6 separate regions of the Homo sapiens genome follow, and all the other regions are linked to region 1. Evidence: fine-mapped expression QTL. A gene starts in region 1. Each other region holds a variant in brackets. All regions are shown on one strand. Distances are between the middles of the regions.

What was found. PIP is the estimated chance that this variant, and not a neighbour inherited with it, causes the effect. A credible set is the group of variants that fine-mapping cannot tell apart.
Region 2: its variant is the best candidate, but not a certain one, in a credible set for the expression of MAGEC3 in aorta (GTEx, PIP 0.88).
Region 3: its variant is the best candidate, but not a certain one, in a credible set for the expression of MAGEC3 in hippocampus (GTEx, PIP 0.87).
Region 4: its variant is the best candidate, but not a certain one, in a credible set for the expression of MAGEC3 in caudate (GTEx, PIP 0.81).
Region 5: its variant is the best candidate, but not a certain one, in a credible set for the expression of MAGEC3 in coronary artery (GTEx, PIP 0.78).
Region 6: its variant is the best candidate, but not a certain one, in a credible set for the expression of MAGEC3 in cerebellar hemisphere (GTEx, PIP 0.79).

What each region holds. Positions count from the first base shown.
Region 1 is chrX:141,835,945-141,841,370 of GRCh38, forward strand. MAGEC3 (MAGE family member C3) reads left to right here and starts at 2,372. Exons shown (of 8, transcript NM_138702.1): 1 at 2,372-2,494. The coding sequence starts at 2,372.
Region 2 is chrX:141,123,055-141,128,480 of GRCh38, forward strand. No RefSeq gene overlaps it. Among named protein-coding and RNA genes, the nearest start is that of LDOC1, 51 kb to the right of the region's middle. The variant T/A (reference allele first, on the strand shown) is at 3,024.
Region 3 is chrX:141,392,102-141,397,527 of GRCh38, forward strand. No RefSeq gene overlaps it. Among named protein-coding and RNA genes, the nearest start is that of SPANXA2-OT1, 110 kb to the right of the region's middle. The variant T/C (reference allele first, on the strand shown) is at 2,506.
Region 4 is chrX:141,459,867-141,465,292 of GRCh38, forward strand. No RefSeq gene overlaps it. Among named protein-coding and RNA genes, the nearest start is that of SPANXA2-OT1, 40 kb to the right of the region's middle. The variant G/A (reference allele first, on the strand shown) is at 2,714.
Region 5 is chrX:141,359,240-141,364,665 of GRCh38, forward strand. No RefSeq gene overlaps it. Among named protein-coding and RNA genes, the nearest start is that of SPANXC, 120 kb to the left of the region's middle. The variant G/A (reference allele first, on the strand shown) is at 2,254.
Region 6 is chrX:141,111,115-141,116,540 of GRCh38, forward strand. No RefSeq gene overlaps it. Among named protein-coding and RNA genes, the nearest start is that of LDOC1, 63 kb to the right of the region's middle. The variant C/T (reference allele first, on the strand shown) is at 2,418.

The sequences.
Region 1 (5,426 bases):
AACTCTTGTTACTACATGTTGGGACATTTTTAACAGATTAAATGTGATAATATAAATCTGAAGTATTGAGCACTGTACCTGGCATAGAATGAGCTCATTATAATATCAGTCTCCTTATTCTTTCCCTTGTCTAACCATCAGTGGTGAGAAACAGCTGTTGATTTGCCAAAATATATGCATAATTTTATAAATGAAAACATCCAAAATCTCTTTGGGTGGCCTATTAAGGAATGAGCTACAGGGTTTTTCACCTTTATTACTATTGACATTTTGAGACAGATAGTTCTGTGGGCTTTTTTGAGGGGGTGTCATCTTGCTGAATTTAGAATGATTAGCAGCATTCCTAGTTTCTATTCAATAGATGCCGATAGCACCAAGAGCCATCCCAGTTGTGACAACCAAAAATATTTCCAGACTGCAAAATGTCTTCTTGGGATGGGGTGCAAAATCACCCCCAATCTGAGCACTACTGAGCTAGAGGAATGAAAAGGACATTGTGTTGGAAGAGGGTAGGGACTTAAGCTTTGAAATGTTGTTCATAGCTTGGAAGAGGCCCACCTTAGCCGTTTCTGCCATTGGGTGAACTAGGCTTTTTGTGCCTAGGTGTTAGTGAATGGATGTCAGAGCAGAAGGTAGGAGACAGGAGAAGAGTCTTCTCTATTTAGAGGGAATGGAAAAGATGCAGGGCAGTGTCAGAAGGTTTCAGATCTCTCATGAGCAAATGCAAAACTTCTGTGTTCTCAAGACCGGAAACACATTTCTCAGCCAAGGGAAGAGGCTAATTGAGAGGAGTGATCGTGGCTCTTCTTCATTTTCTTAGTAAGCTCCTGAAGGTGGCAAGACCGCAGAAAAGCAATGCATTTAATACCTCAGGGACTTGTTAGTGCCTGAAATTGAACATGGAGGCATTGGGATGATTTCATTGTGCCTCAGAAGTTATTAAACTGAGTCAGGCAAGTCTGCACTCTGGCTCCCCATGTGCAGGTGCAAGCAGTGGCCCCAGTGGGGATCCGAGGGCAGTTCCCTGGCTGGTGGGGTAATGTTCCAGGCAGGAACACAGCTGCCTCTGCTGCACAAAAAATCTGCCTGAAAAGTGGGAGGCAGCAGGTTGTAATAAGCCCCACTCAGCTCCCACACACTTGGCAAGTCAGTTTTCATACCCACAGTGTTCTGCTAGCAGCAGCAGCTAACTGGGTTTCAAGTGGCCCGTGCTCAGAATTTAAAACCATCCCAGGCCATAAGCTTTCCCTATGGACACAGAAACCATATCTTTCAGGCTGCATCCTTTCCAGTCCACCTGTGAAGCAGGGCCATGCAGCTCATGTGCCTTGTTGCCGTAGCACACTTCTCACTTGCCCCTCGGTTCTGGCCAATCAGCTTTGTCCTTACTAAGGATTATATCACAAATCCCAGTTGGGCTCTTCTCTCAAACTGTGACTGCAGCCTGAGTTAGACTTCTGCAACGTCCCGTGAGGTGGGATCAGGAATGGCTTCCCTCCATTCTTGCTGGAATCTGGGTCTGCACACAAAGCATGTCCCGATGCTGCTCCTTCTTATATATTCCTTACTTTTCACTGAATCACCTCTAGAGCTGAGTAGGTTTGAAGTCCTCCCTCATGACTTGTATTGCCTGGCTCGCCTGTGGGAGTATATGTCATGACAGCAATCTATCCCTCTCTCATGCTCTGGGGACTAATGGTTTTCCATCTGTTTTATGATGTAGTCTGTTGCCTGCCACTTCATTCAAAGGGTCTGTGGTTTCTTTCAGTTTTTCTGTTAAGTTCTTACATTGTTTCTTCGAATAAATTTTACAGCATGAATCTCTACATGCCATTTTGTCTTACCAAGTGGGATAAGTATGCTTATAATGCTTCCAATCTGCCATCTTGGAAAAAAAGAAAAAAAAAACTTTAAATATTTTGTCTGTAATGTGCTATGGAAGAGACCTTTTCACATTGTATCTGTTTAGGAATTGATGGGCCTCCTGTATCTCAATGTCTAAGTGTCTTGCTCGACTTAGGAAGTGTCATCTATTATTTCAATAAATAGGTCTTTGAAAACATGTTTTCTCTCTTTGCCTTCTGGGCTATCAGTGATTTTTATATTTGGTCACTTTATGTTGTTAGATAGATTCCAAAGGTTTATTTTATTATTTTCTTTTTTTCTTTATTTTTGTCTGACAGCGTTATTTCAAAAAAAACTGTCTTCAAGCAAAATGTGATCTTAACATAAGTCAGTTATGATTGAGTATATTGTTGAAGCTTTCATGTGTATTTTTTAGTTTATTCACTGCATTCTTTGGCTCCAGAATTTCTGTTCGTTCCTTTTTTATGGTCTCTATCTCTTTGGTAAAGACAGGGTGGCAGTGGCCATGCTGCTGCCCTGCCACTGGGTGTTGGATGCCACCTTCAGTGATGGCAGTCTAGGCCAGTGGGTGAAAAACACATGTGCCACATATGCCTTATCCCCAGTGGTGCTCCCACCTCAGCCCCAGGTGTGGTAGCCCATGAATGCTCATGTCTAAGCCCCAGGTTAACAGCCAGCTCTTCTTTTGCATCTCAGCCTCAGTGTTGCTTGGCTCCAAGACAGTGTGCAGTCTGTTGGGGGTGAGGCTCTAAGATGCTATCTTGCCCAGCCTTGATGTTCATGTCTTTCCCTTGGTTGCAGTAGCCTGTGGTCGCTCATGTCTGAATCTCCAGGGAAACATCAGACATTTAGTTTGCACCTAGGCCTCAATGCCACTGGGCTCCAGGACAGTATGTAGTTCATCGGGGGTGAGGCTCTGCAGTGGTGCCTCATTTGTGCCTCAGTCCTAAAAGCAGCAGCCCACGCCTTCGTCCCACCTCTGCACCAGATGCTGTAGTCTGTAGTCACTGATGCCTATGTCCCTGGGGCAGCAGTTCGTGCTTCTCTTGCACCTCAGCCCTGGGCTACTGGGCTCCAGGACAGTGCTCAGTCTGTTGAGGGCAGGGCTCTAAAATGGTACTTTGTTGTAGCTGCTTAAGTCTCAAGAAGTGTGAGGGACCCAGCGGGAGCTTTCTCCCTGAAGCAGTGCCATCATACAATCTCCTGGCAGCTTTCTATGTTAGTTTCGGGGCCCATGATGGTTGAAGGGATCTCCTGTGGCTGGGATTATAGGAGTCTATAGTGAGAATGTAAACTACTGAGGCTCTCTCACCTATCCTTTCTCTGTATTTGGAGTCTCTCAGCTCACAGCTGATCCTGGATGAGCAGGCTGCCTTGATTCCCTCTCCATCTCTGCTTTAAGTATTGCCTATCACTTTTCTAATGGATTCCAGTGATTTCCTTTGAATTATATATTCAAAGTGTGATTATCGACTCACCGTTTGGTTATTTTTAATGGAGAAAGTGAGTACAAAATGCCTCTAGTCTGCCATATTCATGGTTTCCAAGAAATAATTTTTAAAGGTTTTTAAATATTTTATGTAATTATAATGATTATGGGCATAAGAAGGATTATGGAGAAGAACGGAGCAAAATAAAAGCTTCATTCACTCTGCTGTCATATTTGATTATATCTTGAGGTCAAATTGATCTTTGCTATTGTCTTGGCTGCCGGCTCTGGCTACAGCTAATCCTGGGCAGGCTTTGCAGCTCCTACCACTTCCAGGCCCACAGCTGCAATCCCAAGCTTGCTCACCAAAACAAGTGTTTATTCATTATATCTTCAGTAGATTTTATTTTATAAATATGAATTGTTTATATGCATTTCTAATATGTCAAATGCTTTACTAGCTTTTTAATATCTTTATATCCATTTTCCCTGGATCATTACTTACTGTTCTTAACTCAGTGGTTCTTAACTGGAAGAGATTTTGCCACTTAGGGGATACTTGCCAATATCTAGAAATATTGTTGGTTGTCATAATTGGTGGCAGCAGGGAATGCTACTGGTATTTAATAAGCAGAGACAGAGATGCTTCTAAGCGTCTTATTGGACAAAGGACGACCTCACACAAGAAAGAATTATACTGCCTAAAATGTGATGGTGCTGACAGTGAGAAACCCTGAGTTTAACATAATTTGCTCAGAACTCTAAAAATGATTCACTTTCCAAAAATTTGCTGCATTTTTTCTTCTGGTCAGAATGTGCACAATGGAAATTCTTCCTGAAGGATTTGTGTGAGGAGACCTATTCTATAGCTGTTAAATGATTGGCAGGGAGGTTGATAGATGGAGGTGAAGTCAGCCAAAACTTAACTGATATTTAACAGCCAGGAAATACCCAACCTGGAAAGTATTCATTCATAGCATCACAAACCACTAAAGAAAAGTGATATTTTACCTCTGAGAAAGTTAACAGCAAAAGTATAGTCTTTCTAATTAGTTTTTAGCTTGCAATCTAAATAAATGACAAGTAGAGAATATCAGGTCATAAAATATCATTTAATTTTAAGAAATATTTTCATAAGAATATTGACATAAAAGTGATTTAAGAAAGTGAAAGTTACATTTAGCACAAGATTTTGCATTTTTCAAAAGTATATGATATTGGAAAAACATATAATTACATATTATTTTGAATTTGTTCTATGTAGCAAACTTTGTTCAGACCTCTTTAAGAACATTTCATAAATTTGGCATCATTACTAACATCTCCATGTTAAGAAGATTTTCACAGAAGCAATATTTTCTTGTGTCTCTAAATGGGAGAGAGTGCCTCTCCTCACTAAATTGCCATATTAAAGTGGACTGTTCAGCATTTATTTTCTTCAACCATTCTGTCTAAAATTCAGCCTGATGTATTAGCATTAGCATGAGTCCTCCTGCAAAATTGGTCAGTGGGTAGTTATGCTTTTGTGTGTTTTTCACATCAAAAAAAAAAACCCCACAAGAACAAAAACAAAACAAACACAAAAATGCTCAGTAAATAGTTAATGAATAAATTGTTCTATTCAAGGGGATTGAGAATGGACCTTGCTCCACTGCTTCTTTTTTTTTCTGTATTTTCAACATCTGCCTTTCTACTGGCTAATTAACTATAGTTTATAAATATGTTTAATATTAAATAAAAATTTAAGTAAGAGGAAGCATCAGGAACCACTTTAAAGGTGAATTGTAAAAAATAATGTGATAATAACTTCACTCTGCTTTTCCTTCTCACTTCTTTTCTTCTTTCTTCTTTTCTTTCCACTTAAGCCTCACAAGAGTGAAGCTTCTTGTCTGTCTCTTCTTACTTACCAGTCACTCTTTCTTCAACCTGGTGCTCTCTGACTCCTGTCTCTACCACTCAAATAAAGCTGTACTTTGCAAGACCATCAAAGCCATTTTAATTATCAAATCCAAAGACTCCTTTTGGATATTTCAGGTCTCCAAACAAATTGCATCTTCTTAAAGAGGAATTTCCTGACCACCTGAGTTAAATCTCATGACATTCGCAAACATATTGCCGTATTTTACATTCT
Region 2 (5,426 bases), 710 kb before region 1:
GATAAGGAAATACCAAAGAAGAGTTTGAAGATTACAGATTAATCCAGTATCTTAGGACTAGAAGAGAATGTGAATATTTGTCTTAAGAAGAGATGGTGGCCGGGCGCGGTGGCTCACGCCTGTAATCCCAGCACTTTGGGAGGCCGAGGCGGGTGGATCATGAGGTCAGGAGATCGAGACCATCCTGGCTAACAAGGTGAAACCCCGTCTCTACTAAAAATACAAAAAATTAGCCGGGCGCGGTGGCGGGCGCCTGTAGTCCCAGCTACTCGGGAGGCTGAGGCAGGAGAATGGCGTGAACCCGGGAAGCGGAGCTTGCAGTGAGCTGAGATTGCGCCACTGCAGTCCGCAGTCCGGCCTGGGCGACAGAGCGAGACTCCGTCTCAAAAAAAAAAAAAAAAAAAAAAAAAAAAAGAAGAGATGGTGAGTGGGAAAGTGATGTAATTAGATATGTTCCATGCATATCATAATTATTGTATGTAATTATTGGTATTAGTGCCTTAATTTACTCTTTGATAGGCCTAGGTTCTACCCTTTCCCCATCAGTTTTCTTCTGAGTTCCCAATCTACTAGGTAGTTGAACAGGTAAAATCTGTTTATTTAACTTCATATTAATCTATTCCTATGTAATGTGTATATGTATCATGTGTGTATATATTATATAATCTATATGTATACATTTCTACTAAGCTTATGTTCAATGTTAGCAGTAGTTTCTTTTTCTCCAGTCCTTAATAAAGTAATTAATATTCTGATGAAAACAGAGTTAAGATACTTATGTTAGGCTGGGCGTGGTGGCTCACGCCTGTAATCCCAGCACTTTGGGAGGCTGAGGTGAGCAGATCACGAGGTCAGGAGTTTGAGACCAACCTGGCCAACATAGTGAAACCCCATCTCTACTAAAAAATACAAAAAAATTAGCTGGATGTAGTGGCAGGCACCTGTAATCCCAGCTACTCGTGAGGCTGAGGCAGAAGAATCGCTTCAACCCAGGAGGCGGAGGTTGCAGTGATCTGACATTGTGCCATTGCACTCCAGCCCAGCAGACAGTGCGAGACTCCTCAAAAAAAAAAAAACAAAAAAAAACATACTTAGATTAACATGTTAAGTATTGTTAAGTTTTATGATTTCATTATCTCCTTAAAAAGTTTTTTTTCCAGAAATCATGGGGACAAATAAATACAAATTATTTCACTTCTGCCATGATGTATATTGCTGGCATTGATTGTATTCTATTTCTTTTTTTTTTTTTTTTAAGATAGGGTCTCACTGTCACCCAGGCTGGAGTGCAGTGGCATGATCTGGGCTCACTGCCACCGCCACCTTCCAGGCTCAAGCCATCCTCCCACCTCAGACTCCTGAGTAGCTGGAACTGCATACAGATGCGCACCAAAATGCCCAGCAAATTTTTGTATTTTTGATAGAGATGGGCTGTTGCCCAGGCTGGCCTTGAACCCCTGAGCTCATGCAATCTGCCTGCTTTGGCCTCTAAAAGTGCTGGGATTACAGGCATGAGCTACTGCGCCCGGCCAGTTATATTCTTTTGCAAACATATTATTGAGGACAATTAAAAAAAAACAAAAACAAAGCAAAAATCCATATATATATTTTAAAGTTCTCTAATTTTTTATTTTAAAGTTATTATATTTTAAATGATAAATGTACCCATAGACTTAGTGCAAAGAAAAACATTATATTTTCCCCTCAGTATAACATATTGAAAATATAAATAAACAATAAAGCACAAGGCGAAAACAAGCAGGAAAATAGCATTTAAAAATGCATATAAATAAATGTTATCTTCACTGATATCTTCGTTTATACCCATAAGCTACTACAAAATTATTTTTAAATCTACGTTGCCTTTAAAAAAGGAAACAATTCAGCCTGTCTTTTAAAAATCTCCACAAATATATTTGCAAATAAGTTTGAAGATATTTCCCAGATGTTTTTCATGTGATGTTTTTTCTTTCAGACACAGAAAGCAAATGAGCATTTTCACAGAAACTTGTTTTTTAATAAATTGGTGGCTGATTGTGCAGGTGTGTGAATGAATTTTGAGAGGCTCCCAGCATTCCTGGGGGCTCATCCTTCAGAGGATAGATTATGGGGTAGAAGCACAGGGTTGGGGGCCTCTGACTCCCATTTAAATGCCAAAAATGTGAAAGTACCTCTCTGATTTGCCTAGAGCCATCCATATAAGAATTTAGGCTATAAAAAAAATCTAAAGACCAGGTGTGGTGGCTCACGCTTGTAATCCCAACACTTAGGGAGACTGAGGCGGGTGGATCACGAGGTCAGGAGTTTGAGATCTGTCTGGCCAACATGGTGAAACCCCGTCTCTACTAAAGATACAAAAAATCAGTTGGGTGTGGTGGCATGTGCCTGTAATCCCAGTTTCTCAAGAGGCTGAGGCAGGAGAATTGCTTGAACCCTGGAGGTGGAGGTTGCAGTGAGCCGAGATCGTGCCATTGCACTCCAGCCTGGATGATAAGGGGAGACTCCACCTCAAAAAAAAAAAAAAAATCTAAAATGAGCCAAATGTTATTGCTATTTTTATATGACCCAGCACTAAGTAATGCTCAGAATGTTTTGTCCTCTAAGTTTTAATAGGCAATGTTTCTTCTAGACAAATATCCAGAAATATTTTTTAAATAAAGCTTGGGGAGAGGTTTACAAAGCACCCATACAAAGCCATTTTAATATTTTGGAAGAGAACAAGCTATATAACATTTATATTGAATTCAAGGTAATTTTTAAGTAATGAAGTGTCTTACCTCATTTTATTCCAGTCCCCTCGTTTTACAGATTTTACAGCATAGAGAAGAGAAAAAACTTCTGGCAATTCATACTGCCAGATAATGAGAAAACTAGTAGTGGAAACCAGGTCTCCTGCCCATGAACTCACCAAGCCCCATCCCTTGATCTTTTCACTATACCACTCAGTTTACTTTCGGATTCAAAGTAGAAAAATATAGTGGAAATGTGTATAAGATAGTTTCTTGATTTTTTTAACTAATTAT[T/A]CCATTTAAGCCTAGGAAGAGAAGAAGGAGCATTTTATTTTATAGTTAATAAACTAAAACATACATTTTTCTTAACTAGAAAGGCAGAAACTAAGTTGACAAGTCCTGTGCACAGTATCATTTTCAAGCATATCTCTGATGAAAAAAAAAATTGAAAGCAACACAAACAACTGTTACATGAAGCGTATAACAAATTGGTAAATGCTTTTGATCCTTTGAGCAGGAAGGGACAATTGAGTAGATAACCACCATACAACTGTGGGAAAATGCTCACTGCTCTTTATTCTGGGAAGCTACTTTCTGCATGCAAACACAAAAGGAAAGTAAAATAAATTAAGCAACTCATCCACTTATAGCTAAGCTGAAAACATGTAGTATATAGTTTATAGATGACAGTGTGAAGTGTGAAGTCAAGCACTACCAGAAGAGAGCCAGCTAACTATATCAGGGGAGAGAAATGGGATGAGCAAGATGTCTTGAAAAGCACTGTGGGCTACAAACTATAATAGATTCAGTGAGGTCAAGTGCAGTTTTCCAGGACTTGGACTTGGCTTCAGAACTCAAATGTACAAGATGGGAAGTGGTGGCTTACCAGTAATACATTCAAATAAGACTTGGGGGTTTGAGTTGACAGTTAATATAAATCAATTAGAGTTAAAAATCATATAATCTTAGGGACATATACACTGAAATATGATAACCGTAATAGGAGAAATTCTAGTTCCACTCCACTCAGTGCAGTCACAGGTAAATTACCTAATTTCCATGTGCCTCAATTTCCTTATTGTCCAAATGGGGATTCAAATGCCTCATTCCTAGTCATGTTGTAAGGATTAAATTAATTAATACAAGTAAAGTGCTTGGCACACTACTTGATACTCAATAAAGGCTAGCTTCCATTATTATTATTATTATTATTCAGCTTACTCTAAGACACTGAACTCAGTGATGCATTTTTTAAAAAGGGATAAACTAGTAAGTATTCAACAGAATGTGATCACAAAGTGACCGAAAACCCCCTCAGAATCTCATCATATAAGGATAACTTATGGGAACCAGCATGCTTAACATGAAGAAAAGATGACTTCGATTATTATGGAAACTGTCACTACATATCAGAAAGGCTGTTTTGTGGACGAGGAGGCAGATTTGTTCTCTGAGGCTCAAGGCAGAGGGTAGAAACTACAAGGAAACAAGATCTGGTTTAATACAAGCAAGACTGTTATGATCAACAGAATTATCCACAGATGGAGTGGGCTGTCTCAGGAGGCTGACAGTTGAAGCATTAGTTGAATGTTTGGCTAAGATTTTGAAGACAGGGTTTACACATCAGATGGTTGGGTAGGACTAAATGACAGCTAAAATTCTGTTCTTTCCAGACATGAGTTCCTATAATTCTATAACCATTCTCCAAGGACACTTTGGTGGTCAAGCCAGTCTAGTAACATTGACCCTAAAATTTGTCTGGGGGAAGAAGCTTGCCATTATCACACAACTATTAGCAGTTTACAGTGTAACACTGTGACAATGGCTAACCAGATTAACCACAGAGCCAAATACTTAAGACTGCAGAATATGGCAATCCACAGGGGGAAGAAAAAGATCACAAATGTAGGCAAAGCTGCCCAACCTCCTCCAAGGATCAGAGAAATGCACATTGTATTTTGGCTGGGTGCAGTGGCTCACGCCTGTAATACCAGCACTTTGGGAGACTGAGGTGGGCAGATCACCTGAGGTCAGGAGTTCGAGACCAGCCTGACCAACATGGAGAAACCTCGTCACTACTAAAAATACAAAATTAGCCGGGTGTGGTGGTGCATGCCTGTAATCCCAACTACTCGGGGGTCTGAGGCAGGAGAATCACTTGAACCTGGGAGGCGGAGGTTGCGGTGAGTCAAGATGGCGCCATTGCACTCCAGCCTGGGCAACAAGAGCGAGACTCCATCTCAAAAATAAATAAATAAATAAAATAAAATAAAATAATATTTTAATTGCTAATGTTTTCAAAGTTAGATGATATTAAAGGCTGAAGAAGAGGTTGTGCGTGGTGGCTCACTCCTGTACTCCCAGCATTTTGGGAGGCCGAGGTGGGTGGATCACCTGAGGTCAGGAGTTCAAGACCAGCCTGGCCAACATATTGAAATCCCATCTCTACTAAAAACACAAAAATTAGCCGAGCGTGGTGTTGGATGCCTGTAATCCCAGCTACTCGGAAGGCTGAGGCAGGAGAATCACTTGAACCCGGGAGGTGGAGGTTGCAGTGAGCCAAGATCGTGCCATTGCACTCCAGCCTGGGTGACAGAGCAAGACTCCCGTCTCCAAAAAAAAAAAAAAAAAACAGACTGAAGAAGATATGAACAAAGAGAAACCGTCATGAATTGAATGTGGAAATGTAAACTGGTA
Region 3 (5,426 bases), 440 kb before region 1:
TTTTCGGACTGCTGGTCACAGCACTCTGATGGGTGGCACCTGCTAAAGCACTTTTTCAGGCTATGGTGGTGGTATCCATGCTCATTCACATGTGCCAGCAGCAGTGGCAGCACAGTGAGGTGCACATTTATTGAATGAGTTGGGGTGCTGGTGGGCACAGGGGTACCAGTCTCCTTGCAGATGTTTGCAGTGGTAGTGGTGGTGGCGGCGTGGTACAGGTTGTCCTATTACAGACACCAGCTTTCAGTTATTCAAGGAAATCAGCATGGGAGATGAGAATATTAATTTATTATCGTCAGTCATTAGATTTGTCAGACACAATTTTAGTATCAATGTTCTGCACTCTTGATCCCATGATTATTAAAAAGCCACTGAAATCCCAGCATTTTCCCTCTCTTTGCATCCACGTCCCTGTGCTCTATGCCTCTGTCAGTCAAAATTAAAGCATTACTAAGTCACATAAATGTGACAGTCTCTTTAACCTCTAGTCCTTTGTACACACTGTTTCTGTGAAGAAATTCTTTCTGCCCAAATTTGTTCAAATTAACAAATTGACTTATTTTTGATACTTAGTTCTGTGAATTTTAGCACATGTATAGATACATGTAAAAATTACCACAATCAGGAGAGAAAACAGTTCCATCGCTCCCAATACTTCTTGGCACCATCACTTTAGAGTTACACCTTCCCCACCCCTCTAACACCTAGAAAAACCACCGATGTAGTCTCTGTCACGTCGTCTTGCCTTTCCAAGAACCTTACAGAAATGGAATCAGACAATATCATATATTTTGAGATTGGCTTCTTCCACTTGGCATAATGGTTTGATATTAATGCCAACTAGCCAACTATTGTGGAATCAGTAGTTTAATTTCTTTTATTACCGAGTAGTATTTGATTGTATTAATATACCACAGTTTATTTATTGTTATCCATTGAAGGGCATTTGGATTGTTCCCACTTTGGTATATTGTGAATAAAACTGCTATGAACTTTCATATTCAAGAGTTTGTGTGAACATAAATGTGGCAGGCTGAATAACAGTCCCCGAAGGTATCTATGTTTTAATCCCCAGAACCACTAAATATGTTACCTTATATGGCAAAACATACTTTGCAGATGTGATTAAGTTCAAGACCTCGAGATGGGAAGATTATCCTGAATTATCCTGGTAGGCCCTAGGTCTAATCACAAGCATCCTTATAAGAGGGAAGCAGAGTAAAAATTGCCCCAGAAAGAAGAGGAGTAGGTAGTGTGACCATGGAGGCGGATAGTGGAGTGATGTTGCTAAAAACCAAGTAATGCCAGCAACCACCAAAAGCCGGAAGAATCGAAGAACAGATTCTCCAATGGAACTTCTGGTGGAAGTGAAGCTCTACCAACACTTTGATTTCAACCCAGTGAAATTGATTTTACATTCCTATTATCCTCTGCAGAACTGTGAGAGAATATATTTCTGTTGTTTTAAGCCACTGAGTTTGTGATAATTTGTTATAGCGGCCAAAAGAAACCAATTTAATAGGACTTCATTATTCCAGGTTAAATTGCACTCCTGGGAGTACAATTGCCAGGATGTACAGTAAGTACGTGTTCAACTTTAAAAGAAACTGCAAAACTCTTTTCCGAATAACTGTAAAATTTTGCATTTCCATCAACAATGTATGAGAGGTCCAGTTCCTCAGCTTACTTTTAAGTGCTTGATGTTATAGGTATTTTTTATTGTATCCATTTTAATTAGCGTGTAATGCTATTTAAATGTGGTTTTAATTTGCATTTCACTAATGGCAAACAATTTTAAACATTTCTTCATGTGTCTGTTTGCCATTCACATATCCCCTTTGGTGAAGTGTAAATTCTACTCTTTTGCCCATTTTCTAATTAGATTGCCTATTTTTTAACCGCTGAGTTTTGAGAGTTCTTTATGTACTCTAGATACCAGTCCTTTTTTGGGTATACAGTATGCCTGTCTTTACATTCTCTTAACAGGGTTTTTCACAGATTGAAGCTTTTTAAATTTTGATGAGGGACATATTAACACTTTTCTTTTATGGATCTTGTTTTCAATGTCATTTCTAAGCTTTTCATGAAACCCTCAGATACTAACAAAAATCTTACATTTTTCTTTTAAAGATTTTATCATTTGTCATTTTACATTTAGATCCATGATTCATCTATTTTAGGTTCATTTTTGAGTAAGATGTGAGATTTAAGTCAATGTTCGTTGTATGTCTATGATTGTCCAATTGTTGCAATATATTTGTTGAAAAGAGTATCCTATCTCCTTCAAATTGCCTTTGCAAGTTTGTCAGCTGTCAGTCAGTAGTACTTCGTAGGTGTATTGATGAACTCTGTTTTCTATTCCATTGACCTACATGCCTATCCCTCTACCAATTCCACAGTCTTAATACTGATAACGGTAGCTATATAGAAAGTTTTAAAATTAGGTAGTGTGGTTCCTCCAACATTATTTTCCATATTTAAAATTGTTTTAGTTTATCTAGTTTA[T/C]CTGCCTTTTCTTATACATTTTAAAATAAGCTTGTATTATATATATAAACGATTAATCCTGTTGTGTTTTTGTAGAAATTGCATTAATCATACAGATAAAGTTTGAAAAAGATTGACTGTTTTTATTATGTTGAGTCTTCCAATCCAAAGCCACATGATTTATTTCAATTTTCCTCGATATGTCCCAGCTGCATTTGGTGGTTTTCAGCATAAAGATCCTGTTTATGCCTTAGTAACAAAACCAGACAAAAATATTACAAGAAAGGTCAACTATAACATCTCCCATAAACATAGTTGCAGAAATCTTCAACAAAATACTACCAAATGAAACTCAACAATGTATAAAAAGAACTATATTACAACTGAGATTTATTTCAGCTATGCAAGGCTGGTTTAAGTTTCAAAAATCAATTAATGCAATCCGTCACATCAAGGGTGTGATACAAATTTGGACAGCTTTTCTGGAAAAATTCATGGACATTCCTCAAAAAAGTAAGAATAGAAGTACCATATAATCTCAAGGGTGGGGAGGATTACAAAGAACCTTCTTAAGGGTGGGGGAGATTATGAAGTACATTGATCAGTTAGGGTGGGGCAGAAACAAATCACGATGGTGGAATGTCATCAGTTAAGGCTATTTTCACTTCTGTGGATCTTCAGTTGTTCCAGGCCATCTGTATGTATATGTGCAGATCACGGGGGATATGATGGCTTAGCTTGGGCTCGGAGGCCTGACATTCCTGTCTTCTTATATTAATAAGAAAAATAAAGCAAAATAGTGGTGAAGTGTTGGGGCAGCGAAAATTTTGGGGGGTGGTATGGAGAGATAATGGGCGATGTTTCTCAGGGCTGCTTTGAGTGGGGTTAGGGGCAGCGTGGGAACCTACAGTGGAAGAAATTCAACTGAAGAAAGATTTTGGGGTAAGGGGTGATATTGTCGGGTTGTTAGAAGGAGCATTTGTCATATAGAATTATTGGTGATGGCCTGGATGTGGTTTTGTGTGAATTGAGAAACTAAACGAAAGACACAAGGTCCAAATAGAAGGAGAAAAATAGGTATTAAAGGACTAAGAATTGGGAGTACCCAGGACATCCAATTACAGAGTGTCCAAGGGGGTTCAGTGTAATTATTTGCTTGGTTGGCGAGTTTTTGGGCTGTATCCTTGAGTTTTTTTATGTTGTCATATACCAGGCCAGATTGATTTAGGTAAGAACAACACTCTTCATTTAAAAATATACAGAGTCCCCCACCAGCTTTTTTTTTTTTTAGCAGTGAGTAAGTCAGGGCCTCTGCGATTTTGGAGGAAGAAGAAATGCAAAGTCAGCAACTGCTTGTTAAAGCAGGATTAGAAACGGCTAGGAGAGAGTGAGATTGATAGTGTGGTGGAGATAGTTGGGGAGAGGTAGAGGGTGGCATAAGATGGTGAAGCATTTTAAAAAATCTTTTGCCTATGTTTTGATTGGATTGTTTATTTGCAATTGAGGTGTAAGAGGTTTTTGTACATTCTAGATACAAATACCTTATCAGATACATGTTTATACATATTTTCCTTTCTTTCTATTTCTTGTCTTTTTTAATTAAATTTTTTATTTTGAGATAATTGTAGATTTACATGCAATTGTAAGAAATAATGCAGGGAGGTCCCATATACTCCAGTTTTCAAAATGGTAATATCTTGACGAATCGTAATACAATATCACAACCGGGATATTCACATTGATATAGTCATGTAAGAAAACACTTTCATCACCACAAAAATCCTTCATATAGTCCTTTTATAGCCACACCCATTTTTGTCCTGCCCCATCCCTCCTTAAGCCTTGGCAAACAGTAACTTGTTAAGCTGTTGAATATTCCATATTTTCTTTCTCTAGTGGCACGTCCTAGTATTAAAAACAAAAAAGCAAACAAAAAAATTTTTGAATTAAAATTATTTCCAAGAAATCTGGAGCAAGAGAGTTCCCCTTTCAATATTACTATTGTGGCAAAAGTTTCTGAAGCCCCCATCCAAATTTATTTTAAAATATGTTTATGAACTTAGGGTTTTTTTGTTTTGATTTTTTGTTGTTTTTCACAAACCAGATGCCACCATATGGCTTCAATGTGTTCTACTTCGGTGTTAGAAACAAAGTGAAATGGCTGCCAGATTTCCCTGGAGTCCTCATATTATAAAGGAAATGACTTGTGAAGCCAGGAGACTCAGTATTATGATAAGCCCTCCAAAATGGTTTAGATCTGAAGTTCAGCATACCCAACAAAAACAAAAAAGAACATTAGATGGTGCCTGCACAACAAGGTAGCCATCCCACCCAAATGCCTCAAAGGGATGCAAGCTGATGGTGTTAAAAGCTATTTTTCTTCAGTGGTTTGATTCAGTCTGAGTTCAATTTTAGAATCTCTTTTTCCTGAGTTGCTACAGGTATACCCTTCCATTAGTCAAAAAAGTTTCATTTGTAAATCTGACACCATGTATTTATATGAGATTGAATGCTAAACTTGGTTGAATTACGTCACTATAATTATCAAGTATAAAGATTCAGGCAATTGCAGCCTTAAATTCATTTACCTTGGCCTATTACCTATGCTCTTTTTCTTATATGCTCTTAACATCATCTTTTAAGAAAACGAAAGTGGCTATATTTATCACTCAGGATATGCTAGGTTATGCTGTAGGAATAGACAATCTTAAAATCTCAGTGGCTTAATAAAGCAAAGGTTCATATCTCATTCATGGAATGTCTGCTGCTAAATATGATACTGAAAAAAAGGTAAGCAAGCATATACCAGATTTCAAGATAATGCAAAATTTGATGGTATAATAAGGTGCACAAGTCATATACATAGGGTAAAACGTTTGAAAATATAATTTAGGATAATGGCTCCGTTTAACATGGATGGTGAGTACCTAGGGATTTACTAC
Region 4 (5,426 bases), 380 kb before region 1:
GATTTATAATTGAGCAAGTTGGGTTTATATCTGTGTGATACCTGTTTGGAGGTATCGGGAGGTCAAGAGAGTTATCTTAAATTAAGATAAAGGCAGACCAGGCACCATGGCTCACGCCTGTAATCCCAGCACTTTGGGAGGCAGAGGCGGGCGGAACATAAGGTGAGGAGTTCAAGACCAGGGTGGTCAACATAGTGAAAACTCGTCTCTACTAAAAATACAAAAATTAGCTGGGCATGGTGGCGCACACCTATAGTCCCAGCTACTTGGGAGGCTGAGGCAGGAGAATCGCTTGAACCTGGGAGGGAGAGGTTGTGGTGAGCCGAGATTGCGCCATTGCGCTCTAGCCTGGGCAACAGAACGAGACTCCATCTCAAAAAAAAAAAAAAAAAAGAAAGAAAGAAAAGAAAAGAAGAGATAAAGGCTTTGGAGGCATTTACACATAATTAAAACCAAGGGAAAAGCTTAGAAAATTTGTAGAAAATGTAATGAATAAGATGAAGACCCCAGGAAACAACATTTTAAAAATCAAACATGGGAAAGAATTCAGTGAAAGAAATTGAGGAACAACATACAATGATGTAAGAAGAGCACAGGAAAAGTGTAAAATCATGTAAAGCACAATAAGGGCATTTCAGGAAAGAATGATCTACAGTGATATTTTGGAGAACACTATCAGCAAATTGAGGGGAGCAGAAGCCAGATTTAAATATATTGAGGAATAAATGAAATTTAGGAAAATGCCAGAACTAGAATCTTGACTGAGGAAAGAAAGAGAGGTGTAGGGGAGTTGCTAAAGGCAAGGTGTTGGGTCAAATAAACTTTTTGGTTTGTTTTTTATTATATTTTGTTTAAGTGGAGGGGGCGGGAACTACAGTATTTCAAAAGATGAGGACAACAGAGAAGTGTAAGTTGAGTATATGGGAGGCAGTGAAGATAATTGATAATTTCCAGAGCAGCAAGAAGGGAATACAATTCAAAAGACAGGTTGAATGGCATATCCGGGACTGAAAGAAAAGAGAAAATCGTTGGTAAATGTGGATACAGAAAGCTTTATGTAAGAAGTCAGGAAATTGAAGAATTCTGTTCCTGGTAAAATAGAATAGTAAGCCTGAGAACAATAAAGGAAACTACTTAGAAACTTAGTGGTAGTAGTTTCTAAGAGGGATTGACTTGTCAACCTCAATTCTTCACCCTCCCCTGCAACTACACTTTGGCCACGCCATTGATGAGCAGAAAATGTACATTGTCTCCCTTAACTTGGGGCTTGGCCTTGTGAATTGCATTGGTCAATAGAATAGGGCATAAATAACAGTATGCCAGTTCTGATTCAATAACTTAAGAGGATTCACATGTTTCTGCTTGCCCTCCTATGCCTCTGCAATGACCATGAGAAGAATATCCCTGCAATAGCTGTTCACTTTTCAATCTGAGCCCAAGAAAAACAGATCTGGAGATAAATATCCCCAGCTGCTGTACCACTGAAGCAGAGACATCAGCCAATTAACAGATTGATGAAAATAATAGACAACTATAAGCCATAGAATTTGGAGGATTGTTACACATAATTATTGTGGCAATATTTAACTCACACAAGAGAACTGACCAAAGATAAGAAGAAGATGCCTCTTATGTATCCCACATGAGATTAGGAAGAAGGAAGTTAGAAAAGAGAATTATAAGGAGGGGATTGAAGCTCGGAGAGCCCAAGAAACTTGCCCAAAGTTGTGGACAAGGAAATTATGAAACAATGACTGGAATTCAGGACTGTCTGATTCCAACTCCATGTTCTTTTTGCTGTATCAATCTGTATGGTCTCAGAGGAGTCAACCTGACATTCCTGAAGAGTTCTGAATGGAGATGAGCTCTGAGAAGTACAGAAGTCTCCAGGCACCAGGGACCAGAACTCATATTCTATGGCTGATCGTGTATGAAGAAGTGCAATTTATATCACCCACTGGCTTTCTAGGGGAACTCTATATTTCTCTTTGGGGCACACATTTTTTTTAAATGTAGGTAGTATGGGAACATCAGAGTTTGGAAATCAGACAGGTTTGGATTTGAATCCCAGATACGCAATTTACTTACTATGCATATTTCAGCAATTGACTTAAACCTGGATGCACTTCAGTTTTATCATCTATGAAATGGACAAAATTTACCTTGCTGGTTTGTTCAGGGGATGGCTAAGCTTAGGCATCTTTCCCATAGTAGGTGCTCAGTAAGTGTTAGCTCCTCCCTACTTCTTATCACAAGGGCACTGCTGTCTACAAAATGAACCTTCATGCACAAAAATTAGAGAACAACAACAACGACAATAACAATAACAAAAGCTTCCTCCAGGTGTGAATTTTGTTTCCCTTAAAAGTAACAAGATACTGTCTTTATTATAAACAAATATATATTGCACCCCTCTTTTTTTCATCTTTCTTACTTCAAATTTATGTTTACCCTCTGTATTAGTTAGTTCTTGCGCTAGTATAACAACATACCTGAGACTGGGTAGTGTATAATGAAAAGGGGTTTCAGGCACAGTTCTACAAGCGGTACACGAGGCATAGCTGGCGAGGCCTCAGGAAACTTACAATCATGGCAGAAGGTGAAGAGGAAGGAGGCGTGTCTTCACATGGCCGCCAGGAAAATAAGAGACAGGGGGAGGTGCTACACACTTTTACAACAACCAGATCCTGTGAGAACTCACTCACTATCACAA[G/A]GACAGCAAAAAGGAAGTTGGCTCCCATGATTAAATCACCTTCTACCTGGCCCCTCCTCCAACTCTGTGAATTACAGTTTGTCATGGGATTTGGGTGGCAACACAGAGCCAAACCATATCACCTTTCTAATTTCCTCATGAATTACTGTGGCACCTCAACTACTACTCTGCAATATTTCTGCCAAGACTGGACAAAGGGCAACATGAGTGAGGTACTAGGGAAGAATCCCATTTCCTCTGCATCCTAAATCTTGCCATAATGTTAGCCTAAAGGTTGAATTCCAACAGCAGGGAAAGAAGGTGGAAAAGAATAATTTTTATTGATCTCTTCCCGCCGCAATTTTCTTCCTTCAGTTCGGCAGCAGTCATGTCAAGGGTAGCGGTGGAAAAATAAATGGCTTCTCTCTGTGATCTGTGTTTTATAACATCTCTGTACTCCTCTTTCTTCCTCCCTTTTTACTAGATTTACAGAAGAAAAGCAAAGGTGACAGATTAGTATAGTGATTTGTGTGTCAAACATAAAAAATAATAATGGTTCCGTGTAGACTATAATAATAATAGTAATAGTAACAATAATGGCCGGCATTTTTCAGGCTTTTAGAATGTGTCAGGTATTATTCTAAGGCCCTTACACCCATTAACTCATTGAATCTTCACACAAATTCTGTTGAGTAGGCACTAGTATTATTCCTATTTTAAAGAAAAGAAAAAATATCTCTGACTATAACATTGGATTTATCTGTTTCTCCTTGTAACTTTATCAGTTGTTGAATCATGCATTCTGATGCTCTGTTTGTAGGTGCATACACATTAAGGATTGTCTCTTTGTCCATTCAGGCTGCTATAACAAAAGCATACATTGGATGGTTTATAAGCAGGCATTAATTTCATACTCCTGGAGACTGGGAAGTCCAAGATCAAGGTGCTGATAAATTCAGTGTCCGGAGAGGGCCTCTTCCTGGTTTGTTGGCCCCTGACTTTCAGCTGTGTCCTCAAGTGGTGGAAGGGGGAAGGAATCTCATTGGGTCTTCTTATAAGGCTGCTAATCCCATTGATGAAGCCTCAGTCCTCCTGACCTAATCACCCATCAAAGGCCACACTTCCTAATACCCTCTTTTTGGGGATTAGGATTACAACATTTAAATTGTGTGTTAGGGGGAGGGTGGGGTAGGGACACAAACGTTCAGACCATAGCAGATTGTTATGTCTTCTTGGATGACTGACTCCGTTATCATTATGTAATTATTCAATTTATCCATGATACCTTACCTTGCCTGGTGGTCTGCTCTGTCTGAAATTAATAGAGATAGTCCCACTTTCTTTTGATTAGTGGTAGCATGGCATATCTTTATTTTTAGTTTTATTTTTTTTATTATTATTATTTTTTGAGATAGAGTTTCACTCTTGTCGCCCAGGCTGGAGTGCAATGGCGCATTCTCAGCTCACTGCAACCTCCGCCTCCTGGGTTCAAGTGATTCTCCTGCCTCAGCCTCCCGAGTAGATGGGATTACAGGTGCCCGCCACCATGCACAGCTAATGTTTTTTGTATTTTTAGTAGAGACAGGGTTTCACCATGTTGGCCAGACTGGTCTCAAACTCCTGACCTCAGGTGATCTGCCCGCCTCGGCCTCCCAAAGTGCTGGGATTACAGGCATGAGCCACCGCACCTGGCTGGCATATCTTTCTATATCTGTTTACTTTTAACCTGCAAGTGTCTTTATATTTAATGTGAGTTTCTTGTAAAAAGCATATGGCTGGGTTTTGTTTTTTGATACACTATGACAATATCTGTCTTTTAATTGCGATATTTAGACCATTGATGTTTAAGTGATTATTGATACAGGTGGGTAACATTGAACACATTTGCAACTGTTTTCTATTTGTTGCCCATGTTCTGTTTCTATTTTTGTCTCCCACACTTTTTCTGCCTTTTGTAGTTATAACTAAATATTCATATGATTCCATTTTCTCTCCTTTATTAATATATCAGTCATATTCCTTCTTAATCTTTTCTTGGTGGTTTCCCTAAAGTTGCAATATATGTTTAAAACCAATCCAGGTCCACTTTCAAATAACACTATACCACTTCATGGGTAATGAAAGTAATTTAAAATAACAAAATAATCTGAATTCCTCCATCCTGTCCTTTGCAACATTGCTATCATTTATTTTACTTATATATAAGCATATAAATACAGAAGTATATATATTGAATACATTGTTGCTATTCTTTTTTAAACAAACCATTATATGTTACATCAATTACAAATAAGAAAAATAAAAGCTTTTAGTTTACTTATTCTTTCTCTAATTTCTTTATGTAGATCCAAGTGTCTAATCTATATTATTTTCCTTCTCTCTGAATAACTTTTAACATTTCTTTCAAAGCTAGTCTTCTGGCAATAAATTCTCTCAATTTTTGTTTATTCAAGAAAGTCTCTATTTCTCCTTCACTTGTGAAGGATAATTTTATAGGATTCAAAATTCTAGGTTGGTGAAGTTGTTTTTCTACCAAAACTTTAAATATTTCACTCCACCTTTTTCTTGCTTGCCTGGTTTCTGAGAAGTCAAGTGTAATTCTTGTCTTTGATCCTATATAGGTGTCTTTTGTTTCTGATGGCTTGTTTCAAGACTCTTTTCTTATCTTTGATTTTCTGCAGTTTGAAAATGGTATGCCTGGCTGGGCGTGGTGGCTCACGCCTATAATCCCAGC
Region 5 (5,426 bases), 480 kb before region 1:
CCTGGCTAATTTTGTATTGTTAGTAGAGACAGTGTTTCTCCATGTTGGTCAGGCTGGTCTTGAACTCCCAATCTCTGGTGATCTGCCCGCCTCGGCCTCCCAAAGTTCTGGGATTACAGGCATGAGCCCACCGTGCCCGGCCTGAAAGGTGAATCTTTTAGGAGTGGAAAGGAGAAAGGTGAGTTGGCAAAGTGGTTGAGACTTGTGCCCAAATCCCATGAAGCATCCTAGAGGTATTGGTGTATTGAAATGAGTATACCTGTGTGGATGACACCAAAGACCATGTTAAATGCTAAGGGTCCTTCAGATCATTCTGACTTAGAGGAACTATAGCACCAGTAGCACCACATAGCTTTAAGAGCATTTAAGTTTAGGCATTTAAATTTAGGCAACATCCTCAGCAGTGACTATGGAATGATTACCAGAAAGGCCTCTAATCTACTGCCCTGCGCTATTCAATCCTGGTGCAACCAAATGAGGAGAAAGACATGAATAAAAATAGAGATTCAATAAACTATTCACCATATTTGACAAGTGGAGGTCTTGGAGCCACATTTGATTTGATTTCAAAAAACGAAACACAACAATTCTGTACATTAGGTGTTGTGGGAAAAATTTACATTTGATCCTGAGCATTTATTCATAATTAATTTCAGATAAAGCATATTATTTGCTGTCTGGTGTATATACTTTAAGACCTCACATTGTATACTGGCAGCTTCAAAATCTTCACCAAATTTATATAAAACCCCACTGTTAAACTTGCCTCTTGAAGTGTTGATCTGGTTTATGTAGTCACCTATGACAGTATAAATATTGCCATTGTCGTCCTATTCGGTTTGATAACTTTCTTTGAAAATTACACTAAATGTGACCTTGATCTTCAAGTCTTAAAATTAATTTCAATTGAATGTAATCTAACTTGAAAATTTGAGAAATGTTTGTATCTTGCTCAGAATCTTTCAGGCAAGGGATGAGGGTAGGGAACAGAAATTTACTTCTTTAGTGGATAGTATCTGTACCCATATTTAGGAACCACTGATACAAATTATCTGAAGAAACAACAGTTTTCTCTTTTAAGGGAGCATAATGCCTTCATGCAATTTGATATATATTATTGAATAATTCTATTCTACTTCTTAATTGTGCAGAAATACAGAGGTGACAGAGGATATACTTCTTTTACAATCTATTATTGAATACACTACATCCCCAGATTCTAAGATAAAAATCAGTGGGCAATTCCATACAAGAGAAATGACAGGGAATAGAAGAGCTTTCAAAAAACACGGAAACAGAAAGGACAGGTTGCCCCTGACAACAGTTCTCTCCCACAATCCCTCCCTCATTTGTAATGGCAATAGTGACCACAAGGAGACACTTCCTTCAGAAAAATTCCTTCACATTTGTAAAAACAGGTGTCTCTGGTAGGCACCTGGGTAGCTGATTGCAGGATTAACAATGAATAAAACAGCTCTGCATATAATCGAACTACCCTAGGTTCGGACATAGAAATAAATTAGACAAGGATTAAAATTATATTTTAGTTATCTTTGGGTGATTTAAATTTCTTTTATTTATTCATCTGTACTTTTCCTGTGTAAGCATATTTATTTTTATAATCAGAAAAAAATAAGAATAAAAGAAATATAAAAATCGTTCAAAATGTCAGTATTAGACTTCACCTTCCAGCCCTGGTGAAATGACTGATTTCAGATTTGCCACCTAGCCATAAACAACTAGAAAACTGAAAGAAAAAGATGAAATATCAAACAGCTGTTTCAGATATTAGATAATAGACAATAGAGGACTTTGACCCAGGGCATAAGATAAATAAACGTGGTGAGGTATACAATTGCCTCAACATTCTGTTCGGAGGTTGTATTAGTCCATTTTCATGCTGCTGATAAAGACATACTGGAGACTGGGAAATTTACAAAAGAAAGAGATTTAATGGACTTACAGTTCCACATGGCTAAGGAGGCCTCACAATCATGGCAGAAGGCAAGGAGGAGCAAGTCACATCTTATGTGGATGGCGGCAGGCAAAAAGAGAGCTTGTGCAGGGAAACTCCTGTTTTTAAAACCATCAGATCTTGTGAGACTCATTTACTATCACAAGAACAGCGGAGGAAAGACCCAGCCCCATAATTTAATAATCTCTCACTTGGTTCCTCCCATGACAGATGGGAATTCTGGGAGTTACAATTCAAGATGAGATTTGGGTGGGGACACAGCCAAACCGTATCATTCT[G/A]CCCTTGGCCACTCCCAAATCTCATGTCCTAACATTTCAAAACCAATCATGCCTTCTCAACAGTCCCCCAAAGTCTTAACTCGTTTCAGCATTAACTCAAAAGTCCACAGTCTAAAGTCTCATCTGAAACAAGGCAAGTTATTTCTGCCTGTGAGCCTGTAAAATCAAAAGCAAGTTAGTTACTTCCTAGATACAATGGGGGTACAGGCATTGGGTAAATACAGCCATTCCAAATGGGAGAAATTGGCCAAAACAAAGGGGCTAGAGGCCACATGCAAGTCTGAAATCCAGGAGGGCCGTCAAATTTTAAAGCTTCAAAATCATTTCCTTTGACTCCATATCTCACATTCAGGATGCGCTGATGCAAAAAGTGGGCTTCCACAGCCTTTGGCAGATCTGCCCCTGTGGCTTTGCAGGGTATATCCCCCCTCCTGGCTTCTTTCACGGGCTGGTGCTGAGTCTCTGTGGCTTTTCCAGGCACATGGTGCAAGCTGTCAGTGGACCTACCATTCTGGGGTCTGGAGGACGGTGACCCTCTTCTCACAGCTCCACTAGGCAGTGCCTGAGTAGGGATTCTGTGTGAGGGCTCCAACTCTACATTTGTCTTCTGCACTACCCTAGCAGAGGTTCTCTATGAGGACCCCGCCCCTGCAGCAAACTTCTCCCTGGGCATCCCGATGTTTCCATATATCCTCTGAAATCTTGGCGGAAGTTTCCAAACCTCAATTATTGACTTCTGTGCACCTGCAGGCTCAACACCACATGGAAGCTGTCAAGGTTTGGGACTTCCACTCTCTGAAGAAACATCCTGAGCTGTACCTTGGCCCCTTTTAGTCACGGCTGGAGCAGCTGGGACACAGGCCACCAAATCCCTAGACTGCACAAGGGAGAGGGACCCTGGGCCAGGCCCACAAAATGACTTCTTCCTCCTATACCTCTGGGTCTGTGATGGGAGAAGTTGTGGCAAAGGTCCTGACATGCCCTGGAGACATTTTCCCCATTGTTTTGGGGATTACCATTTGCCTCCTTGTTACTTATGCAAATTTCTGTAGCCTGCTTGAATTTCTTCTTAGGAAATGGGATTTTCTTTTCTATTGCATTGTCAGGCTGCAAATTTTCCAAAGTTTTATGCTCTGTTTCCCTTTTAAAACTGAATGCCTTTAACAGCACCCAAGTCACCTCTTGAATGCTTTGCTGCTTAGAAATTTCATCTGCCGGATACCCTGAATTGTCTCTCTCAAGTTCAAAGTTCCACAAATCACTAGGGCAGGGGCAAAATGCCACTAGTCTTTTTGCTAAAGCATAACAAGAGTCACCTTTGCTCCAGTTCCCAACAAGTTCCTCATCTCCATCTGAGATCACCTCAGCCTGGATTTCATTGTCCATATCATTATCAACATTTTGGTTAAAGCCATTCAACAAGTCTCCAGGGAGTTGCAAACTTTCCCACATTTTCCTGTCTTCTGAGCCCTACAAACTGTTCCAGCCTCTGCCTGTTACCTGGCTCCAAAGTCACTTCCATGTTTTCAGGTATCTTTTCAGCAATGTCCCACTCTTTTGGTACCAATTTACTGTATTCGTCCATTTTCATACTGCTGATAAATACATACCTGAGACTGGGCAATTTACAAGAGATTTATTTAATGGACATACAGTTCCACATGGCTGGGGAGGCCTCACAATCATGGTGGAAGGCAAGGAGGAGCAACTCACTCACATCTTATGTGGATGGTGGCAAGCACAAAGAGAGCTTGTGCAGGGAAACTCCTGTTTTTAAAACCATCAGATTTTGTGAGACTCATTCACTATCATGAGAACAGCGCAGGAAAGACCCATCCCCATAATTTAATCATCTCCCGCCAAGTTCCTCCCACGACATATGGGAATTCTGGGAGTTACAATTCAAGATGAGAATTGGGTGGGGACACAGCCAAATCATATCACAGGTACTTTCAGACTGTGGCACAGAATGGAAGACAAGAAGCAAAACATAACAATCTTTATCAGTTGGAAATACAGATGTTAAAGTTTGAAGAAGCAGATGCATATGGAATTTGTGGGAAATGGTTCTGGAGACAAGATTGTTGAGCTACAGAGAGAATGAATTTGAGAAATCTTCACAGAAGTTTTGCTGAGAATGTTGCTGAATACTAAAATGTGCATGTGTAAGCTGAAACGTCATGATGCTGGGTAAAGCACTTATGGAGAGCTGTAAACTGAACTATTCCTACAGCATACAACAGGGCTGGAAGTCATTCAAATTCTAACCAGTCAAAGTGGAGATACTTTGTTGAAAAACTGGAGCATTCAGGCAACTTCTGGACAATCACATTTTAGTAGAGGTGAAACTAGACTTAAAGTAAAGGATACTTTAGATCCATCCTAACAAAATTGATGTGAAAGTTATTTAACTGTCTGACAAAACTAAGTTCAACATTTCTTAAAGATACACAGTGGGATTCTGATATTTAACAATATAAAATGTTCAGTATTCAATCAAATATTCTTCACCATGCAAAGCAGTAAAAGAAGAAATACATAGCCAGGAGAGAAATCAGCCAATGGAAATGTTCAGAAATGACAAAAATTACTGTATTAAAAAACAATTTTAAATAATTATTATATATATGTTCAAATATTTGAAGGAAGTCATGCACACTATGAAGAGGTAAATGGGAGGTTTAAGTTGGAAACAAAAAGAAGTTGTAGAGATGAAGAATACAGTATCTGAAACAAAATATTTAGAAGATGGGTTTAAAAGCAGTTTAGTTACTGCAGAATAAAAGACGAAGGTGCAACAATAGATGACTCTCCAAACTGCACTTGAGAAAGAAAAAGAACTTAAAAAATCAGAATCTTAGAAATCTGCAGGACAATATAAAGCAGGTTTAACATGTGTGTAATCATATTAAATGCACTTAGAGAAGACAGAAAATATATTTGAAGTTGATTTATTTTTCTTAATTTCATGAAAACTATAAAACCATAGACCCACAAAGTTTAACAAACATAAAAGACTATAAACAATAACAGCAACAACAAAACACATCAAGATACATTGTAACAAAATAGTTGAAAACCAATGATAGAGAAAAATTATAAAGCAGCCAAAGGGGGGAAAATAATAGCTTTCATACAAAGGAAGGAAGGTAAAAATACATATTCACTTCTCA
Region 6 (5,426 bases), 720 kb before region 1:
GAGGAAGCAGAATTTTTCTCTGGGTTGAATACTCTCGGGAAGTCGGGGTAATATGATGATCAGGTATCTTAATACACCTTATCTATTGTGAGGGCAGTCTAAAGCAAGGGTAGACTTGTAATTGGTAAAAGAAAAAAACCCAGCAACTTATATTATTCAGAATAGTGAGATAACTGGTCATTCTTGTGACTTGCACAATGTCCATGTTCTGTCTGTGTTCAGACATGATTGCAGAGCGGTCTTGTTTTCGCCTTCATCCGTCATGGTCACACAGCGGCCTCATTTAATGCTGATGTTCCTGATAGAGTAATACCAAGGCCTAGCTGTGAGTGCCAAGCCAGCTCCTAGCAACAACTGGGCATAGCTTGTGAATGTCAGAAGCTGTTTTTCTCTTTCTCAAAACCAGTTAAACATTTAGTTCAGTGATTTGTCCTGCAGCTGGTGGATGAGATGGAATTTTCAAAAGCGGAAAAAAATAGAACAAGGTATGTTCTTTCTCAAAAGACATGTTTTCCAGCACTATTTCTATACGGCAAATTATTTCTTATACAAAGTTAAAATATAAAGAAGAGATTAGGAGAAAATACTTGTGATATGTATAACAAACAAATGACTATACAAATTTTTTCTATAAATAAAAAATCAAACAACCCAATAGAAAAATATGGCAACAATTCACAGATTAATAACTACAAATAGATAACAAAAGATATTCAACTTTACTATTCGTAAAGTAAATATAAATTAAAACAAAGAAGCAATTTTCTTCCATTGGATTGACAACAAAAATCATGAGGGAATAGGAAATCCTAATACTGTTAGAACAAAGTACAAGTACTTTGCAGGATATTTTGGCAATTTCTAGCAAACTTTAAAATGCTCATTAAATTTTTAAGAATTTTCCTTTTAGAAATGCTACACATGTGCACGAAAACATATGATTCAAAAATGTTCATTGTAACATTTGTTAAACAGAAAAACTGGTGAAAAACATTTGTACATCAATAGAGAAATACCTACATTTAAAAATGATGTATCCATACTATGAAGTTATATGCAGACAATTAAAATATTGACATAGATATGTATGGCAAATATAGAGGAAAAACAAAGATACAGAATTAGACAAGAAAATTAATTTACAAAAGTACTTAATATCTCATTTATGTCAAAATATTTATGTAGGCCAAACGCAGCAGCTCATGCCTGCAATCCCAACGTTTTGGGAGGCTGAGGCAGGAGGATTGCCTGAGTCCAGGAATTCGAGACCAGCCAGGGCAACACAGTGAGAACTCTTCTCTACAAAAAAAAAAAAAAAAAAAAAAAAAAAAAGAGCCAGGTGTGGTGACTCATGCCTGTAGTCCCAGCTACTCAGGAGGCTGAGGTGGGAGAATTGCTTGAGCCTGGGAGGTTGAGGCTGCAGAGAGCTGAGAATATGCCACTGCACTGCAGCCTGGGCGACAGAGCAAGACCCTGTTTAAAAAATATATAATTATGTATTTTTAATATTTGCATATATGTATATGACTATATTATGAATCTTTGTATATATATTTAAATGAATATAAAATTATCTGTAAGTGAGCATACCAATTGCAAGCTGTTTCCTTTGAGGACCAGTAATTCAGTTGAATTTTGGGAGAATAGAGGGTGGAGAGAATGGTAGAAATGCAAGTTTTTCTGTATATACATCTGCACTGCTTGAAATTTTTATAAGAAAATATTATTTTCATAATAAAAAGTTATATAATAATATATTCTTTTTTTTTTTTTTCGAGACGGAGTTTCACTCTTGTTGCCCAGGCTGGAGTGCAATGGCGTGATCTCAGCTCACCACAACCTCTGCCTCCCGAGTTCAAGTGATTCTCCTCCCTCAGCCTCCTGAGTAGCTGGGATTACGGGCATGTGTCACCACGCCCAGCTAATTTTGTATTTTTAGTAGAGACGGGGTTTCTCCATGTTGATCAGGCTGGTCTCGAACTCCTGACCTCAGGCGATCCACCTGCCTTGGCCTCCCAAAGTGCTGGGATTACAGGCATGAGCCACCATGCCCGGCCAATAATGTATTCTCTTAGGAACTGTCTAGCTGAGATGGGGTAACTTGTAATGGAGTTATCTTCCTGGCAGAAACAACTAAAAACACTGGACTATATACATATATATATATATAAATGTTTTTTAAGCGTTAGAAATTAGGTAGTGTGAGAAAATAATTCCTTACAGAGGGAAAACAAAGTGAACCCTTACGATTGTCCTGGCTTACTGTCTGAAAGGAGACTTCAGGCTACATCATAGAAAGGGAGAACTCAGGCCGGCCGCGGTGGCTCACACCTGTAATCCCATAGCATTTTGGGAGGCCAAGGTGGGGGGATCACAAGGTCAGGAGAGCGAGACAATCCTGGCTAACACGGTGAAAC[C/T]CCGTCTCCCCTAAAAATCCAAAAATTAGCCAGGTGTGGGGGCACACGCCTGTAGTCCCAGCTACTCAGGAGGCTGAGGCAGGAGAATTGCTTGAACCCTGGAGACGGAGGTTGCAGTGAGCTGAGATCTGGCCACTGCACTCCAGCCTGGGCGACAGAGCAAGACTCCATCTCAAAATAAACAAATAAGTAAATAAATAAAATAAAAAGAAACGGAGAACCTAAATGGAATCCAGTGGCCTCCCTAAGTTGAGAAGACAGAGCTAGGAGTCCAAAAAGGGAAATACAGCTACAATTTTCAGGGAAGAATACAAGAGAAAAGAAAGCTGCACAAAAAATAAGATAACTGCAGCGATTTGTTGAAGGTCCTTCTCAGCTTTAGTTGAGCATGAATCAGTGCATGAATGTGAGGAAACTAACTGAAGCTGGAGAAGCAACTATCTGTAAACAGCAGAAAAAAACAATTCTTAGAGCTCAAACATTTCTTTTTCCCACAAGTCAGAGTGAAAAGCCTTGTATTTCACATGATATTAGGTAGGTTCGTCAGAGGGTATCGCCACAGTAGTGGAAGAAAAATAGTCCTAGATTAATAGCTAGTCTGGTTCTGTCTAATGAAGTTTACAAACAAGCCTTGAAAGAATCAATGTTTTTTTTTTCCAAGTAAATTTAAAGCATCTCAGATTTAAGTGTGAAAATAATATTAGGAGAAGAAAAACACCACCAAAAAGGTAAAATCCACATTGTCTGACATCAAATAAAAAGTTACCAATCACGCATGAAGGAAAGAAAATAAGAGCAGAAAAGCCATTCAATAGAAAGAGACCAGAAAATGGCACCTATAGAATGAGTAGACAAGAACATTAAAACGGCTACAGACGGCTGGGTGCAGTGGCTCATGCCTGTAATCCCAGCACTTTGGGAGGCTGAGGCGGGCAGATCACGAGGTCAGGAGATCGAGACCATCCGGGCTAACACGGTGAAACCCCGTCCCTACTAAAAACACAAAACATTAGCCGGGCGTGGTGGCAGGCGCCTGTAGTCCCAGCTACTCGAGAGGCTGAGGCAGGAGAATCGCTTGAACCCAGGAGGGGGTTTCAGTGAGCCAAGGTAGTGCCACTGCACTCCAGCCTCGGCAACAAAGCAAGACTCCATCTCAAAAAAAAAAAAAAAAAAAGCTACAGGTATTCTAACTATATTATATATGTTCAATAAATAAGAGGAAAGGTTGAACATGTTAAGTAAACATATGAAAGATATAAAACATACCAAAATCAAACTTCTATGGATATAAATTACAGGTCTGAAATGAAAAATAAACTGAATGGGATATATAGCAGATTAGACACTGAGAAGAAAATACCAACACTACAGGTTGAATTTTGTTCCCCCAAATTAATATGTTGAAGTTTCAACCCCCAGTGCTGTAGAATGTCACATTATTTTAATACAAGGTTCTTGTAGAAGTAATGAGCTAAGATGAAGTAATTAGGGCAAGACTTAATCCAATACTACTGGCCTTTTAATAAAAAGGGGAAATTTGGACATAGACCCAGTGAGAATGTCACATAAAAACAAAGGCAGAGATTGGAATGATGCTTCTGAAAGCCAAGAAATGCCAGTGTCCGCCAGAAAATCACTGATTTAGCTAGGCAAGAGACATGGTAGATTCTGAGAGGCCTCCGAAGAAACCGACCCTGTCAACACCTTGATAATAAACTTACAGCCTCCAGAGCTGTGAGCAAATACATGATGTATAAGCCACTCAGTTTGTGGTATTTTATTATGGCCACCTTAGCAAATTAAAGCTACCTGTAACATTGAAAACATTAGAAGAGTAATTTCCACATTAAATGCAAAGAGGAAACATTATTTCAAAACAAAGCTAGAATACCTGTATAATATGATCCGGTAGCTTTCAGAGGCAAGAATATCACATGCAAAATGAGGGACACTGTAAACTGATAAAGGGAGAATTGACCAAGGAAATATAAGAATTTAAATATTTAATATTTAGGTATCCAAAATAACACTGCTTCAAAGTCAACATTGAATAAAATAGCAAAACTTAAAGGAGAAATGGGCAAATTCACAATTATAGTCAAATATGCCAACATTCTTCTTTTAATAAATGATAAAAGATGCAGACAAAAAATCAGTAAAATATACAGACTTGAAAAACAATATCAAACAACTTGACTTAACTGACTTTGGTAGAACACATGACACAACAACAGTAGAATACACAGTGTTTTCAAGCACACACAGAACATTTACCAAGATAAACCAGATAGAGGATCATTAAACAAGTCGAATAAATGTAAAATGATTGAAGCCATACAAAGTACATTCTCTGACCACAATGAAATTGAACTAGGAATTAATATCAGAAAAAAATGTCTAAGAAGTTCCCAAGTAATTTAATACTAAATAGCATAGTTCTGGAGAGGATATGGATCAAGGAAAGAATAAGATACAATTAGAAAATATTTTGAACTAAATGAGAATGAAAAGACAAACTACCAAAATTTGTGGGACCCAGATTTAAAAATATTTGGAGGTAAATTCATAGCACTAAAATTTCTACATCATAAAAGATTGGTCTCGGCCGGGTGTATTGGCTCACACCTGTAATCCCATCACTTTGGGAGGCCAAGGCCAGTGGATCACTTGAGGTCAGCATTTCGAGACCAGCCTAGCCAACATGGTGAAACCCCATCCCTACTAAAAATACAAAAATTAGCCAGGCATGGTGGTGCACGCCTGTAATCCCAGCTACTCGGGAGGCTGGGGCAAGAGAATCGCTTGAATCTAGGAGGCAGAGGTTGCAGTGAATGGAGATCGTGCCACTGCACTCCAGCCTGGGCAACAGAGTGAGACAAAAAAGACTGGTCTCATAACAATGGCCTTAGCTTCTATATTTAGAAAATAAGACAAAAGAGCAAATTAAATCCAAAATAAACAGAATAAAGAAAATAATAAAACTGAAGCAAAAATGAATGAAATAGAAAA